Linked DNA regions of Homo sapiens: region 1 is linked to region 2. The links come from fine-mapping of genetic effects on gene expression. A gene starts in region 2. The other region holds a variant in brackets. All regions are shown on one strand. Distances are between the middles of the regions.

The links. PIP is the estimated chance that this variant, and not a neighbour inherited with it, causes the effect.
Region 1: its variant is the best candidate, but not a certain one, in a credible set for the expression of TMEM87B in whole blood (TOPMed, PIP 0.76).

The regions. Positions count from the first base shown.
Region 1 is chr2:112,108,905-112,114,282 of GRCh38, forward strand. It overlaps TMEM87B (transmembrane protein 87B), which reads left to right. Exons shown (of 19, transcript NM_032824.3): 18 at 3,995-4,025. Among named protein-coding and RNA genes, the nearest start is that of FBLN7, 27 kb to the right of the region's middle. The variant A/G (reference allele first, on the strand shown) is at 2,985.
Region 2 is chr2:112,052,585-112,057,962 of GRCh38, forward strand. TMEM87B (transmembrane protein 87B) reads left to right here and starts at 2,685. Exons shown (of 19, transcript NM_032824.3): 1 at 2,685-3,172. The coding sequence starts at 3,008. RefSeq lists silencers at 1,677-1,726, 1,927-2,656 and enhancers at 3,387-3,456, 3,487-3,826.

The DNA.
Region 1 (5,378 bases), 56 kb after region 2:
TGCATTATTTTATAATCCTATCAGCAATATATGAGGGTTCCAACTTCTCCAAACTTTTTGTTAACACTTATTATTGTCCACCTTTTTGATTTTAGCTCTTAGTGACTATGAAGTGATATGTCATCGCATTTATGAGTTACTGGAATGCAAACTGCCTTGCTGGGGACTAGTGTTAAATATATTTAACTATGGAATTCAAACTGTCTTGTTGGGGGACTAGTGTTATTTAACTAAACTGTGATAACTGAAATTAATGTATAAATAGTCTGTGCAAAGTAAGAACTGCCTATTCATTATGAAACTAACAATACACTGTTATACTTTTTTATTTTAGCAGTCAGAAAAGGAAAATATGGGTGTATATATTCTTTTATATTTCCCATGTATTTACTTTTTCTTCTTTCTTTCCTCTATATATGAGCTAAGACCTTCCTCCTATAGGTCTTTCTTTAATATTTCTTATAGGATAGGTCTGCTGACAACAAATTCTCTCAATTTTATTTATGTGAAAATGTATTTACTTTTCCTTCCTTTTTAAAGGATAGTTTTGCTGGATATAGAAATCTTGATTGACTTTTGTTTGAGCACTTCCAACATGTCTTTCCAATATCTTCTGGCTTTTGTTGTTTTTGAGGAGAAAGTAGTCATTAATTGTATTGTTCTCATGTGTGTGATGTGACATTTATCTTTTGCTGTTTTTCTGATTTTTCCTTTATATTTGGCTTTCTGCATTGTGTTTATGATATGCCTAAGTATGGTCTTTTTTTTTTTTTTTTTTTTTTGTCTATCCTCCTTGGAATTTGTTGAGCTTCTCAGATCCATGTCCCATGGTCATTTTCCAGTGCCTTCAGCTACTTTTTTTTTTTTTTTTTTTTGAGACGGAGTCTTGCTCTTTCACCCAGGGTGGAGTGCAGTGCAGTGGCGTAATCTCAGCTCACTGCAGCCTCTGCCTCCCAAGTTCCAGTGATTCTTCTGCCTCAGCCTCCTGGGTAGCTGGGATTACAGGCAGGCGCCACCACACCCAGCTAATTTTGTATTTTTAGTAGAGACGGGGTTTCACCATGTTGGCCAGGCTGGCCTCGAACTCCTGACCTCAGGTGATCCATCTGCCTCGGCCTTCCAAAGTGCTAGGATTACAGGCATGAGCCACTGTACCCGGCTAGCTACTTATTTTTGACATTTTGGTCCAGGTTTTGTCAGTGTTTTTTGTGGAAGGGATCATCTGACCTTTTCTGTCCAGCTTTACTTGCTCTCTTGTATTGCAATCACATTCTCTGTGATCCTTTTTTCCTTCTTTGTTTCATTTTCTATGTTGTTTTCCTACCACACATTAAGATTTCTGTTGAATTTATTCTCCCTTGGGTGCCTTGTACTTTTCTGCATCACTGCACTGGAATCATTTTTGTCTTTTTCTTTAATTTTTTTTCTGATTATGATTGATTCTTTGAATTTCTTCATGCTTTGTTTTTATCTACTTCTGCTCTTGGTTTTTAGATTTCTTACTGTAGAATGTTTTTAATATTGCCAAATGTTCTTTTTAAGTTATTGTATTTAATTTGGAGTATTGTGTGTTATAACTATAGTTTTCTTCTACTGTAAAATGTTTTGATTTTCATTTTCCTTCTTTTTTCTTTCCTGCACTGTTATATGGAATTGATTTTGTTTTCCCATTCTGAGAGCTTTTATGATGAAGGTTCCTGGTTTGAGTGCCTTTTTCCATCAGTGCGCATGAATTGTAGTTTCTTTTATGGATGACGTTGATGGTATGGAGTAGGAGAGGTTGGTGTTGTTTTATTTTTCTTTTATTTCTGCAGACCTTCTCCCACCGCCCCCCCCAACTTTTTACTGTCTTCTTTTTATTTACTACACGATCACATCTCCAAGGAATATTCTTCTTTTTTATATATCATCCTTTCCTGAAAACAATGATCGTTCAAGGGTGCTGCTTTTTGTCCCACTCGATTTGAGCCCCTTCCGTGTAGCAGGTGCTGTGAACTTCTTCCAAGTCACTGGTTTTATTCAGTCTGTTGGCACTAAGTGTTGGGCTTTTTTGGAGGGGTTGAATTTTGTCTACGGTTGTCTGAGTCCTCCCACCCCTCTACTATTTTTCCTAAAGTCTCTCAACCCTCTGTTTCCCTACTCTGTGTACCCATGAGCTTGCAGTCACAGCAGGGAATCTGTTGGAATTTGACATTTATTTCTCTATTTACATATAATTTCAAGTTTGTGGTGTTTTTTTGGTAATGCTGAAGGCATGTGTCTTTTGTGGTTTTGTTTGTGATCCTTAGTAATTTTATGGTTTTTTGAGCAAGACTATATGGAGAGATTCAAATTAGGTGGCCACCATTATTTTCCAGATTTGGAAACTCATAACTAAGCATTTTAGAAGGAAATTATTTAAGCAGGCTTACCTCCTACTGTGCCATCACTTCTTGCTGGAAACCAATAAGGCTCCTAGGTAGTTCTCTTTGCATGTGAGGAAGTCACCATTCTCTACTATTTTTTTCTGTAGATAGAAATATATTCTTGGTTACAAAAAATCCTTTGAAATATAGAAGACTGAACTTCTTATTTGATGTCTTCATGAACCATTTATGTGAAATGAGTAGAGCTCTATAATCTAAGATGATTTCCAAAATTTTAGGTTCTTGGGAACCTTTGCTTCTTCACTTACGAAAACTTTAACACAAGAAATGTAGCCCAATACTATCCAAAATTAATGTACAATTTACATAGCAAGTTTAGTATTTAGACTTTAAACACAGAGAAAAGCCTTCCCCTTATACATCTGTGGAAATGGAACAAAAATTTTATAAGTCATGGGACATTTTAAACAGATCATGAATAACCACATGATATGTATTATGAGATATTGGTATGATATTCACTGTGAATTTCCTCATCTTCGATAACCCATGAAGGTGACATTAGCATAGCTTATCTCCCTCTTTAATGCACTGAATCGTTCTTAATAAGTTTTAAGT[A/G]GTCATTAACGTCATAGCAGGGACCGTTGTTGATATTGCTAGTGTTTAGCTCTAAACAAGGTGCCAAGCGTGTAGCAGACTGCCTTCTGGTTCACCTTTCCTCTAACGCCGTCTTCTCCCCCATATTTTCCTTAATCGTATTATTCCAAACAGTCTGCCTTGCCTCCTTCCTCACACCTAGTCAGTCTCCTGGCCCTCCTGGCTTCACCATGGACCGCACTGTAGGTAGCATCCTCTGGCGTTGTGCGTGGCTCTTTCATGGCAAAACTTTGGAACTTGGACATTTCCTTCAGGCTCTCCTCCCTCAGACCTCTGTCACACATTGAGGCTAGATTAAACTTACTTAACATTTGTTACATTCGTCTTTTCTTTATATCTATATTATCTTTGTTGAGCAAAAGTTCTGTTATATAACACTTCTCTCTGGTACCCTTTGCTGGCAGACATCCAGGCAGTGGTCATAATGACACAGAAGTTAAGCAAATGCTGGATTCTGTAAATACCGCCTTTCATAATGTGTTTACTCATAAATGGGTTAGGTCCGCAATAAAATTTTTGGATGAGCACATTTGTGTAATCGTCACCCAGATCAAAAAACAGAATAACACTAAGTGCTCTAAAAAGCCCATTTCCTATTTCCCTTTCACATCAGGAGCCCACTTTCCCAAAGGTCCTGCTGTCCTGAAGTCTACAACTGTAGATTATTTGTGTCAGGTTTTAAAATGTTATCCCTCAATAGATCATCCATTTGCTTTGCTGTATAGTATTCCATTGTCTGAATAACCCGCAATTTACCCATTGGGGTTATTTTCAGTTGAGTGCTATTGAGAACAGCACTGCTGCGAAAACTCCTGCATGTCTGTCTGCGAGCCTAGATGCTCCCTTCTGTCACCTGTGGATACCCAGGAGTGAGAATTAGTGGGCCATGGCATGTGCCTGTATTCGGCTTTCGTGGATACACTGGCCTTACTGTTAACAACATTATCACCTTTTTTTCCCTTTTATTTCAGAGCTCTTCCAGTGTTAGTGGATTCAGATGAGGTAAAATATATTTTTGCATATTTCCTTGGAGCTGATATTTTCACAAAGTAGAGATGTATTTCAGAAAGAAGTTCTGAAAGCTACTTTTTAAGATTATTATAAATTGAACAGACAGAAAGATGCTATGAATTGATTTGTGGGTAAAGTTGAAAGGATTTATGAATAAAGTCCCCATTTCAAACAAGAACAAGATAAATACTTACTGGTATGAAGGAAATGAAGGGTTATTTTATGAAATCTTGAGTTTAAACGATTTTAAGATGGCAGTTTGTCTAAATTAATCTCTGATACTTGTAGACATTTTGCTGAGATATTAAAGTTTCAATCTCATTTTCATTTACTAAGCAGGAAATTTGGATAGAGGATGTGGATTTAGGAAAGTTTTTGGGAAAAAAATTAGCTGTGGATCACTTGGACATTAAGTTGTGTGGCACAAGGCGGGAAGAAATCTGAAGTGTAAGAATTAAAGACTGGATGCACGGAACATTAACTTTCAAAAAGGACGAGTGGAGGGAAGTTAGTGGTAGCTAAGTTGTAACTTGTATGGTGGCTGTAGCACATAAGAGGGGCCAGAGCTGTATACGTTGAAAGAGAAGGAAATGATTTTGGCATCAGTCTGTTATTTGACTGTACTGGGATGGGAAGGTTTGAGAAGGCCTTGCTGCAAAACAGTTAAACTTCAAGATTCATAACTCTACAGAAAGATGTAGCATTACAGAAAGATTCATAACTCTACAGAAAGATGTAGCATTACAGAAAGATTCATAACTCTACAGAAAGATGTAGCATTACAGAAAGATTCATAACTCTACAGAAAGAGGTAGCATTACAGAAAGATTCATAACTCTACAGAAAGATGTAGCATTACAGAAAGATTCATAACTCTACAGAAAGATGTAGCATTACAGAAAGATTCATAACTCTACAGAAAGAGGTAGCATTACAGAAAGATTCATAACTCTACAGAAAGAGGTAGCATTACAGAAAGATTCATAACTCTACAGAAAGATGTAGCATTACAGAAAGATTCATAACTCTACAGAAAGAGGTAGCATTACAGAAAGATTCATAACTCTACAGAAAGATGTAGCATTACAGAAAGATTCATAACTCTACAGAAAGATGTAGCATTACAGAAAGATTCATAACTCTACAGAAAGATGTAGCATTACAGAAAGATTCATAACTCTACAGAAAGATGTAGCATTACAGAAAGATTCATAACTCTACAGAAAGATGTAGCATTACAGAAAGATTCATAACTCTACAGAAAGATGTAGCATTACAGAAAGATTCATAACTCTACAGAAAGATGTAGCATTACAGAAAGATTCATAACTCTACAGAAAGAGG
Region 2 (5,378 bases):
GTTTGTGACAGGTTCTGACTCTGTCACACAGGCTGGAGTGCAGGGCTCACTGCAACTTTCGCCTCCCAGGCCCAAGTGATCCTCCCGCCTCAGCTTCTTTGAGTAGCCAGAACCACAGGCACGCCACCACACCTGGCTAATTTTTGTATTTCGTGTAGAGACAGGATTTCGCCATGTTGTCCAGGCTGGTCTCAAACTCCTGAGCTCAAACTATCCACCCGCCTTGACCTCCCAAAGTGCTGGGATTACAGGCGTGCCCAGCCACTGTAAACATCTTACGACCATGGGTGGTGACTGGCAAGAAATGTACCTTGCTAGTTTTAAGATGGAGTTATTTTTAAAATGGTGTCACCCTGGCTCTCCTATGCTCCTGTTTCCCAATTTGACAACCAACACGATCTTTCTGATCAGCTCATCCTTACTTAAAAACCATCATTGGGGCCGGGCGCGGTGGCTCACGCCTGTAATCCCAGCACTTTGGGAGGCCGAGGCAGGCGGATCATGAGGTCAAGAGATCGAGACCATCCTGGCTAACACGGTGAAACCCAGTCTCTACTAAAAAATATAAAAAAATTAGCCTGGCGTGGTGGCTGGCGCCTGTAATCCCAGCTACTCAGGAGGCTGAGGCAGGAGAATGGCGTGAACCAGGAAAGCGGAGCTTGCAGTGAGCCGAGTTCGCGCCAGTGCACTCCAGCCTGGGCGACAGAGCGCGACTCAGTCTCAAAAACAAAACAAAACAAAAAATCATTGCCTCTCCAGTGTTCTTAACTAAAGGTGCCATCTGCCTAACTTAATTTAGGAATGCCTGTATGTTTTGGTACTGTTTAAATATTCCCAGCTTTGCCACTCTCCGTCTCACACCAACATCCAGTCATCTGGAAGATCTTTCCATTCCTCCAGTTCTCTCGTAACTAAAACGATTTCAGACTTACCCCTCACTCCCACAGGTAACTCGCCCTTAACTCTTCTTGTAGAACTTAAATTTCATGTATTGTTCTCTCCTTCTGTCCCTCACTTACTTCCTAAATCTCTGGTGGATGTTCCCCTGTGGTCCTGTTACAGTTATTCTGACCTAAACAGAACTGATCACGTTGCTTACTGGGAAGATGCACATGCAATCTCTAGTGTATAGTAGGTCCTCAATAATTACTGGTGACTGGTAAAGCAGCCAAGGCCTTTGGACTATAAATCGATCTTATTCTACGTTAATAACAATATTAGCACAGGATTCTATTCCCTTGCTGGATATTATTTACATTTGATAATGAATGAACTAATTCTCTTTGACAGCAAAACATGTATTCAGCTTACAGCCGAAAATGCAAGGGAAGGTACACAATAAGACGGATCCAAGCCCTGACCCCTCTGAGCTTTAAGCCAGTCAAGTAACTACTTGTTCTGAAAAGTATTAACTGTCCTATTAACGTTAACCTTCACAACACAATGCCTTGTGTTCAACTGGCCTTGGCCTCAAAGCACTTTCCTGGCACATTCCCTGAATTTAAAGAACGGTTTCCATACAGCTGAGAGGGTCGAGGCAGGGGTAAGTGTAGAAGACGCAAGAAATGGAGACACCCTGGGAACAGAACTCTAGACTGCACTCCAACCGTAGCACTTACTAGGCATTCGACTCCAGGACCTTGACACTCGCGCTCGCTGGCGGCGAGCCCCGCCTCCCCACTGCGCCTCATCTCCCAGACAGGCCCCGCCTCCCCACTCAGGCCCCGCCTCCCCACTCAGGCCCGTCTCCTCACTCAGGCCACGCCTCCCCGCCCAGTCCCGTCTCCGTACTAGGGCTTGCTCCAAGCCCTGCTTCCTCGCCCAACCTGGCCTCCCCACTACGGCCTAACCCCAAGCCCTTCTCGTCCAGCCCCGTCTCCACACTACTGCCTGGTCCTCAACTCCGCCTCCCCACTCCGACCCCATCTCCCTGACCAGCCCCGCCTTTACGCTCAGGCTCCGCCTCCCCGCCGGGTCTTGCCTCCAAATCCCGGCCCCGCCTCCACGCGGCCCCGCCTCCACGCGGCCCCGCCTCCACGCTCGGCCTGGCCCCAAGCTCTTCCTTCCTGGGGCACTCTGTCTCCGCACTCCGGCCTGGTCCCGAGCCCCGCCCCGCCTCCACACGGCCCCGCCACCACACGGCCCCGCCTCCACGCGGCCCCGCCTCCACGCTCGGCCTGGCCCCAAGCTCTTCCTTCCTGGGGCACTCTGTCTCCGCACTCCGGCCTGGTCCCGAGCCCCGCCCCGCCTCCACACGGCCCCGCCTCCACACGGCCCCGCCTCCACACGGCCCCGCCTCCACACGGCCCCGCCTCCACACGGCCCCGCCTCCACACGGCCCCGCCTCCACACGGCCCCGCCTCCACACGGCCCCGCCTCCACACGGCCCCGCCTCCACACGGCCCCGCCTCCACGCTCGGCCTGGCCCCAAGCTCTTCCTTCCTGGGGCACCCTGCCTCCGCACTCCGCCCTGGTCCCGAGCCCCGCCCCGCCTCCACAGTCCCGAGCCCGCCTCCAACCCTGCCCTGTCCCCACACCCAGCTTGGCCCCGAGCCACGCCTCCCACCCCGCCCCCACACTCCCGAGCCCCGCCTCGTCTCCACACTCCGGCGGCGCCTCCCTACCCGGCCCCGCCTCCGCGCTCGGGCTGCCAGCCCTCCCTTGCACGTTCCGGCTCCTCTTCTATCTTCACGCCCACGCTAGGCCCTGAGCCCAGCCTCCACGTCTCGCCGCCAACTCCACATCCTGGCTCCTATCTCTGCCTTCCAGGCATCTCCCAGCTGCACGCTCGGGCCCGGCTCAGAGCCCTAAGCCCTGCCTCCCGGTCCTGGCCGGGTTTCCCAGAACTGCACGGCGCCTCTCCGCCCAGGCCCAAGCGCGAGCCCCTCCTCCACACCCGAGTCCGAGCCCCGCGTCCCGGATTCGGACCCGCCTGCCTGGGGCGGTGCTGCACCAGGTGCGGGTGTGGCAGGCGTCTCGGAGCGCCAGGTGCAGCTTCCTGGTCAAGATGGTCGCCGCCTGCCGCTCGGTAGCCGGGCTCCTGCCACGCCGCCGCCGCTGCTTTCCCGCCCGGGCCCCGCTGCTGCGCGTCGCCCTCTGCCTCCTGTGCTGGACCCCGGCGGCTGTGCGCGCGGTCCCTGAGCTCGGGCTCTGGTTAGAGACAGTCAACGACGTAAGTGGAGTGTCGGGACCCAGGCGTGGCACGTCTCGGGCCGTCAGGGCCGTCGTGCGGCTTCGCTTGACCCCGGGCTTGTTCACCCTGCCTCTGCCGGGTCAGCACCGGGTCCCCTGATACCCTCCCTGAGCCTTTTGTCTGTTACAGCCGGGGAGCGGGGAGCGGCCCCTCCTCCGGCCCGACCTGGGCTGCAGGCAAGAGCCGTCAGGATTGCGCATGGGACGGCCCTCGGGTCCGAGCGCTCGGACTGTTACTGAGGGTCACCATGCCCGACGCCGTGGCCCTCATTCTGCTCTGACATGTTTTGGCTGGATCAGGAATCTCTCGGCACATCTAGCAGCATCTTTGGGATTCGACTCTTCCTGTCCGGATGCAGCCACAGTGGGCCACACCCCTGAGGCCGCAGGGAGGACTTGCCAGCGCTTCAGTTTCTGCATAAACTTAGAAAGCGGGTCTGCCGCTTCCTTAAAAAAAAAAAAGAAAGAAAAAATTTAAATGAGGGGGAAACGTGCAGTAGTCACCCTACCTCTATTTCTCTCTTCTTGAGTTCCTGAATTTCTCTACAGTTCCTGTCACAGTTCCGGGAGAGAGAGTGTGTGTGTAGGTGGGGCGGGACTTGTGATTAGGGAGTGCTTGAAAGGCGAATCTGGAGGCATGAGTGGGTGGAAACTCTTCTTTCCAAGGCAGGCTATTAGAAAACTTGGCGTCTGGTAATTAGAGGAGATGATGTGGGAGAGATGCAGGGGCAGAATTATGGAAAGTCTTGCAAAAGAGAGACAGGAAGTCTGGAAGAGGCATTATCTCCGGCTTCTCTGGGGTCAGATGACTCATCCAGCACTGTTTGGGATGGGTATTTTCCACATGCATGAAATAATGTCCAGGTTCTAAAGATGAGACTTATATTTTGATTTCCTTAACCAGAAAAAGAAAGTAGTTCCAAAGACTACAAATACTTCCCACAACACAAAAGCTACTCAGAGGAACACGCTGGGTATCTTTCTGGATCTTTTAAGACCTAGTGCAGCCATTTCCTCCAGGATTGGATTCTTCTGGGTTGGTGACCTAATTTGTGTGCCAGTTATAGTCTGCACATCTCCATTATTTAATTTCCTGAACGGGAAAAAGTAGAACTCAGTGAACTACTCTCATGGCTTCCTGCTGCTACGATAGTGAATAGTCAATATAACTATATTGGAAGTGAATCAGTTGCATGCATATTGTTGGATTACTTGAACATATCTGTATAGATCTTTGCTAAGTGTACTGTGAACATACCTGCAAAGATCTTTGCCAAGTGTACTTCTTCCTGCATGAGGAAGAGAAGTTTGCTCCTTGAGTGCTGCATGACCTTTAGGCTAATTTTACTCCTGTGTGACCCTGGGCCGCCAGAAGTCTAAAAGCCCTTCTCTCCCAAGAGTGGACTTATATTTTCCACATTTCAGGTTGTCAGAAACAGGAAAGGAGAGTGGGGCTTTCTTTCATTTGTACTGCAAATCTATCAGGAAATTTTGTTTCTTTGTTTTTGTTTGTTTGAGACAGAGTCTTGTTCTGTTACCTAGGCTGGAGTGCAGTGGCACAGTCATATGGCTCACTGCAGCCTCAAACTCCTGGGCTCAAGCAATCCTCTAGTCTCAGTCTCCTGCGTAGCGAAGACTATAGGTACATGCCACACACCAGTTAATTTTTAAATTTTTTTGTAGAGATAGGGGTCTCACTATATTGTCAAGGCTGGTCTTTAACTGCTGGCCTCAAGCCATCCTCCTGCCTCAGCCTCCCAAAGTATTGGGATTACAGGCATGAGCCACTACACCTGGCCAAGAAATGGTTCTTTTGAGTGTACAAGGGAGCAAATGGTTGAAGCACCACTGTGTGTCATATGTTAGACTGGTCATTGCTGTTGCAAAGATGAATTTTAGCCACAGCCCCTTCTCCCAAGACGTTCACACAATAATACGGATAACAGATTTATGAGTAGATAGTCATATACACTGTGATATACTTGGGATATTACTGGAGCACCAAGGGGGTCACCTAACCCTGCTTCCTGGAGGAGAGACCTGCCTCAGTCTTTTTTTTTTTTTTTTTGAGACGAAGTTTCGCTTTTGCTGCCCAGGCTGGAGTGCAGTGGCACAATCTTGGCTCACTGCAACTTCCACCTCCCGGGTTCAGGGGATTCTCCTGCCTCAGCCTCCTGAGTAGCTGG